Linked DNA regions of Homo sapiens. The protein of the gene in region 1 purifies or fractionates together with the protein of each later gene. This does not show direct contact. Each region holds a gene or a part of one and is shown in the gene's direction. Other genes may lie near its edges.

Region 1 (3,500 bases):
GCTACTTTTTGGGAGGCTGAGGTGGGCAGATCATGAGGTCAGGAGATTGAGACTATCCTGGCTAACACGGTGAAACCCCATCTCTACTAAAAATACAAAAAATTAGCCCAGTGTGGCGGTGTGCGCATGTAGTCCCAGCTACTTGGGAGGCTGAGGCAGGAAAATTGCTTGAACCCGGGAGGTGGAGGTTGCAGTGAGCCGAGATCTTGCCACTGCACTCCAGCCTGGGTGATAGAGCGAGACTCCGTCTCAAAAAAAAAAAAAAAAAAAGTAATGCTACTGTGAAAATGTTTATGTACAAGTTTTTAGGTAGACAGAGGTTTTATTTTCTCTTGGGAAAATACGCATGTGTGGAATTGCTGAGTAGCAGAAAGTGTCTTACTTGTAGAAAGTGTATGACTTGGCCAGGCGCGGTGGCTCCTACCTGTAATTCTAGCACTTTGGGAGACTGAGGCAGGTGGATTGCCTGAGCTCAGGAGCTCAAGACCAGCCTGGGCAACATGGTAAAACCCCATCTCTACTAAAATACAAAAAATTAGCCGGGTGTGGTGGCAGGTGCCTGTAGTCCCAGCTACTCAGGAGGCTGAGGCACGAGAATTACTTGAATGTGGGAGGCAGAGGTTGCAGTAAGCTGAGATGACACCACTGCACTCCAGCCTGGGTCACAGAGTGAGACTCTGTCTCCAAAAAAAAAAAAAGTGTGTGACTCATCACCTGCCATACTGATGCCATGAAGATTGTACTGTTGACCATTTCTACCAACAAGGTATGAGGATTCCAGCTGCTCTGGGTTCTCTTCAGCACTCAGCGTTGCCAGTCTCTCTGATTTCAGGGAGTGTATCTCGTTGTGTCCTTCTCTGCGTTTCCCGGATGCCAGTTGCAGTTGTTTTCCATGTATGAAGACTTGCAGCCCAGCGTATGGTCTGTTTTGTTGAACATTCCGCGTGCACTTGAGAAAAATGTCTGTTCTGTTGTTGGGTAGATTGTTCTCTAAATGTCACGTAAGTAAGGTGGGTGATAGTGCTGTTTAGGTTTCAGCGATTTTCTCTTACTTGTTCTATCAGTTCCTGAAACAGGAGTGTCGAAGTTTTCAACCGTGTCTCCTTTCATTTCTCTCAGCTTCTTCTGTGCTTATTTTGAAGCTCTGTAGGTTGGTGTGTATACTTACAGAATTGTTAAGTCTTCATGATGAATTGATCCTTTTATTATCATGAAACATTCTGTTTATCTCTGATGGTAATGCTTGTTCTGACATTTACTTTGTCTGATATTAACAGAGCCACTCCAGCTCTTTTATGATTTGTGATTGGTTGGAATATCTTTTTCCTTTTGCTTACGTTTAACCTAGCTATGTCTTTTTGTTTGTTTTTGTTTTTTAAGAGACAGGGTTTTGGGCCAGGTGCGGTGGGCTCACACCTGTAATCCCATCACTTTGGGAGGCCGAGGTGGGTGGATCACCTGAGGTCAGGAGTTCGAGACCAGCCTGGCCAACATGGTGAAACCCCGTCTCTACTAAAAATACAAAAATTAGCCAGGCGTGGTGACGCGTGCCTGTAATTCCAGCTACTTGGGAATCTGAGGGAGGAGAATAGCCTGAACCCGGGAGGTGGAGGTTGCAGTGAGCTGAGATCACGCCACTGCACTCCAGCCTGGGGGACAGAGCAAGACTCTGTCTCAAAAAAAAAGAAAAAAAAGAGACGGGTTTTGCTCTGTTGCCCAGGCTGGAGTGCAATAGTAGGATCATAGCTCATTGCCGCCTTGAAATTCTGGCTTCAAATGATCCTCCCACCTTGGTCTCCCAAAGTGCTGGGAAAACAGGCATGAGCCACCACACCTGGCCGGCCTCAATGTCATGTTGATGTTCACTTTTACAGTAAATGTTTCCTATGTTTTTCCCTAGAATGGATGATGAACTTGTTGTTGGACATAGTGCAAGATCAGACATCTCCAGCTTCCCTTGTACATCTGGCTTTTAAATTTCTTTACATCATCACCAAGGTAACATTTCCATAGCACTTCAGAGTTGACAGATACTTTTGTAATATACTTGGTCCAGAGGTTACCCTCCAAAATGTTATTTCTCAAGAAAGATAGTTCTTAGACACAAGTTGTGGGTTTAATTCTGTCCCTTTTTACTGTATGTTGGGGATCAGAATTTAGTGATGTGGGCTCTTTGGCTGAAACAGTGTCAGGATATTCAGCATCTTGCATTTGAATAGATTGAAGCACTGTGTAGCTAGGAAGGGAATGGGGTGGAGATGAGACTAAATCAGAAAAACTTCTTACAAGGAGAAAGCAGGCCGGGTGCGGTGGCTCATGCCTGTAATCCCAGCACTTTGGGAGGCTGAGGCAGGTGGATCACCTGTGGTCAGGAGTTCGAGATGAGCCTGGCCAACATGGTGAAACCCCGTCTCTACTAAAAATACAAAAATTAGCTGGGCTTGGTGGCACATGACTGTAATCCCAGCTGCTTGGGAGGCTGAGGCGGGAGAATGGCTTGAACCTGAGAGGCAGAGGTTGCAGTGAGCCGAGATCATGCTGTTGCACTCCAGCCTGAGTGACAGAGCGAGACTCTGTGGAAATGGAAGTGCTTCTCACACTTTAATGTGCAGATGAATTTCCTGGGAATTTTGCTGTGCTATAGATTTTGAGCAAGTAGGTCTAGGCGGGGGTCTCATAGTCTGCTTTTCTTACAAGCTTGCGGGTGTCTGTGCTCATAGTCTGCTTTTCTTACAAGCTTGCGGGTGTCTGTGCTCATAGTCTGCTTTTCTTACAAGCTTGCGGGTGTCTGTGCTCATAGTCTGCTTTTCTTACAAGCTTGCGGGTGTCTGTGCTCATAGTCTGCTTTTCTTACAAGCTTGCGGGTGTCTGTGCTCATAGTCTGCTTTTCTTACAAGCTTGCGGGTGTCTGTGCTCATAGTCTGCTTTTCTTACAAGCTTGCGGGTGTCTGTGCTCATAGTCTGCTTTTCTTACAAGCTTGCGGGTGTCTGCTCATAGTCTGCTTTTCTTACAAGCTTGCGGGTGTCTGCTCATAGTCTGCTTTTCTTACAAGCTTGCGGGTGTCTGTGCTCATAGTCTGCTTTTCTTACAAGCTTGCGGGTGTCTGCTCATAGTCTGCTTTTCTTACAAGCTTGCGGGTGTCTGTGCTCATAGTCTGCTTTTCTTACAAGCTTGCGGGTGTCTGTGCTCATAGTCTGCTTTTCTTACAAGCTTGCGGGTGTCTGTGCTCATAGTCTGCTTTTCTTACAAGCTTGCGGGTGTCTGTGCTCATAGTCTGCTTTTCTTACAAGCTTGCGGGTGTCTGCTCATAGTCTGCTTTTCTTACAAGCTTGCGGGTGTCTGTGCTCATAGTCTGCTTTTCTTACAAGCTTGCGGGTGTCTGTGTGCTGGCCCAGAGGCTCACTGTTGGCAGTTTTGACTATGGAAGTACTCACAGCCGTCTCAGGGTGGGGCTTGGGGTTCGTAGTGGCGAGGCGCATTTCTGTTGTCTGGCGGGAAA
Region 2 (3,500 bases), on another chromosome or scaffold:
CGGGTAGGCAATTTTTTTTTTTTTCCCCAACGGGACACAAGAAATCAGATAAAGACCGGGCGCGGTGGCTTACACCTGTAATCCCAGCACTTTGAGAGGCCGAGGTGAATGGATCATCTGAGGTTGGGAGTTCGAGACCACCCTGACCAACATGGAGAAACCTTGTGTCTACTAAAAAAATAAAAAATTAGCCACGCATGGTGGCGGGCACCTGTAATCCCAGCTACTCGGGAGGCTGAGGCAGGAGAATCCCTTGAACCCGGGAGGCGGAGGTTACAGTGAGCCGAGATCGAGCCATTGCACTCCAGCCTGGGCAACAAGAGCGAAACTCCGTCTTAAAAAATAAATATATGTATATATATATCAGATAAAAATCAAGGAAAATACATATAAATTGGACTACAGTAAAATTGTGACTGTCTCTTCATCAGAAGATGCCATTGGCTGGGCACAGTGGCTTGTGCCTGTAATTCCAGCTACTTAAAAGGCTGAGGCAGGGGAGGCTCCCTTGAGCTTAGGAGTTTTAGGTAGCAGTGAGTGAGCTGTGATCATGCCACTGTATTCCAGCCTATGTGACAAAGCGAGACTGTTGAAAAGTGCCATTTACAGTCAAAAGGCAGGGTACAGATTAGAAGATATTTACAGTGTTTATATGACAATACATAAATAACTTGTACAAATTGGTAAGAAAAAGACAATCAGACACTGGAGCAGGTACTTCGCAAAAGATGATCAAATAGTGGCTGGGCGCAGTGGCTGACACCCATAATCCCGGCACTTTGGGAGGCTGAGGTGAGCGGATCACCTGAGGTCAGGAGTTCAAGATCAGCTTGGCCAACATGGTGAAACATGGTCTCTACTAAAAATACAAAAAATTAGCTGGGGGTATTGGTGCATGCCTGTGATCCCAGCTATCTGGGAGTCTGAGGCAGGAGAATCACCTGTACCCGGGAGGCGGAAGTTGCAGTGAGCTGAGATCGTGCCATTGCACTCCAGCCTGGGCAACAGAGTGAGACTCTGTCTCCAAAAAAAAAAAAGGAAAAAAGATAATCAAGTAGCCACTAAACATGAAAAAATGCTTAACCTCATTAGTTATTGTGAATATTCAAACCATAATTAAATATTTGTACAAATCCAGTAGAATAGTTAAAACTATTAAGACTGACAACACCAATTGTTGGTGAGGATGTGGAGCAACAGAAACTCTCATACACTGCTGGTGGGAATGTAAGTTTATATAACTGGAAAACTATATGGCAGTATTTATTAAATCTCAACATATTCATACTCTTTATTCAGCAATTTCACTTTCAGGTATATTCCCAGTAGTAATATATATGCATACCAAAAGACATTTCTAAGAATCTTTATAACTGCACTATTTGTAAAAGCCAAAACCTAATGTTAACCTAAATGTCTATCAACAGTAGAATGGATAAATAAATTCTGGTATATTTGCTTAATGGAATACTATGCAGCAGTGAGAGTAAATGACCTAGTACTATACTCAGCAACATAGGTGAATCTCACAAAGAGCATAGGAAGCCAGATACAAAAGAGTAATTCTACGTGATTTATAAATAGAATTTATATTTGTAAATTATAAAGTTCAGAGACTGGCAAAACTCATCAGTGGTGATATGAATTAGGATAATGGCAGCATTTTTGTTGTGGGGAGTGATTGGAAGGAAGCCCAAAGGGGACTTCTGGAGGTTTGGTGTTGTTTCTTGGTTTGGGTGGTTATAAATGTGTGTTCACTTTGTGAAAACTTAGTGAACTGTGCATACATGATTTAAGCATTTTTCTGTATTAATGTTGTATTTCAATGAAAAGTTTACCTGAAAATGAAGCCAGCATGTGACAGTCTCCCTTTTCCTTCACTCAAAAGAAGTGACTGAGTATATTTTAGGTAATCACAATAATTATTAGGAAATTTGAAATCTTAAGTGCTGTAAAATATTGTTTTATTTAAAAAAAATTTCTTTAGAGACAGGGTCTCGCTGTGTCACCCAAGCTGGAGTGCACTGGTGTGATAATAGCTCACTGCAGCTTCCAACTCCTGGGCTCAAGCAGTCCTCCTACCTTGGCCTCTCAAATTGCTGGGAATATAGGTGTGAGCCACCATGCCCAGCCTTAAAAAGATATTAGCAAGCAAGATCAAATGCGGTAAGCGGAGGAAATATTTGTATGAGTGAATTTTGGTATTTTACCTGAGAGTAAAAAAAAAAAATTTAATTCTAAATAAAACTTAGCCACAGTTATTATTCTGTATTATAAAAGTAGCTCTAACTTTGTGAATTTTACTAATATAAAATTTAAGCTCTGAGCTGTATTAAATTTTTTCAATGAAAACTTGTATTTTAAAGAATATGTCATAAATATTCTTTGACCTCACAGGCCAACTGTGCAGGAAGATGGAGGGGATGTAATCTACAAAGGCTTTGAAGATGGCATTGTACAGCTGAAACTCCAGGGTTCTTGTACCAGCTGCCCTAGTTCAATCATTACTCTGAAAAATGGAATTCAGAACATGCTGCAGTTTTATATTCCGGAGGTAGAAGGCGTAGAACAGGTATGCCAATATTATATGACAGTCTAGATTTTTTTCATTTTTTCTTTTTCTTTGTAGATACAAAGGCTGGAAATAGATGTTAAGGCAAGTATTTGAAAAGAAGTTCATGACCTAGCTTTTTCTTCAAGGGCTGGATTTTTGTGTTGCAATTTTTATCAGACTTGAAGTCTCTTATTTTAGAAGTAACTTTGGGCTGGGCGCAGTGGCTCAAACCTATAATCCCAGCACTTTGGGAGGCTGAGGTGGGTGGATCACCTGAGGTTGGGAGTTCCAGACCAGCCTGACCAACATGGAGAAAACCCCGTCTCTACTAAAAATACAAAATTAGCTGGGCATGGTGGCAGACGCCTGTAATCCCAGCTACTTGGGAGGCTGAGGCAGGAGAATTGCTTGAACCTGGGAGGCGGAGGTTGCGGTGAGCCGAGATCGCGCCATTGCACTCCAGCCTGGGCAACAAAAGCGAAACTCCGTCAAAAAAAAAAAAAAATGAAGTAACTTTAGTGTTATGAGAACCTACTATGTGCCAGGCATTTTTGCTCATTTCATCTTCTAATGACACAGTGCATTAAGTCATTCCCATTTTGCACATAAGGCTACAGAGACTCAGAGGGCATATTGCTGCCCTGATTGCACAAAAATTATGAAAAAGGTTTAAAATGTAACACAGTGTTTTATAGATGAGATTTAGAAATCTTTAGTGGAAGAACTCTACTACATCATATTTACCAATTTTTTTTTTTTTTTTTTTGTAGAGACGGGGTCTTGCTATGTTGCCCAAGTTGGTCTTGAATTCCTGGCCTCAGGTGATCCTCCCAAAATGCTGGGATTAAGGATTAACACAACTGGCCTAATCTATGTATTCTTAAATATGCAAGCAAGAAGCCCATTAAGAAATCATAGTTTGTTGTTATACTGAGTAGAATTCTAG

Evidence for each region. The genes of interacting proteins can lie anywhere in the genome.
Region 2: the proteins of TBCD (region 1) and NFU1 fractionate together in Homo sapiens (co-fractionation; one large-scale study listed by BioGRID). This does not show direct contact.

Annotation. Positions count from the first base shown.
Region 1 is NC_000017.11:82,762,065-82,765,564, forward strand, and holds part of TBCD (tubulin-specific chaperone D), read left to right. Parts: intron 1-1,900; coding exon 1,901-1,998; intron 1,999-3,500.
Region 2 is NC_000002.12:69,399,436-69,402,935, reverse strand, and holds part of NFU1 (NFU1 iron-sulfur cluster scaffold homolog, mitochondrial), read left to right. Parts: intron 1-2,397; coding exon 2,398-2,572; intron 2,573-3,500. UniProt on the Homo sapiens protein: Iron-sulfur cluster scaffold protein which can assemble [4Fe-4S] clusters and deliver them to target proteins.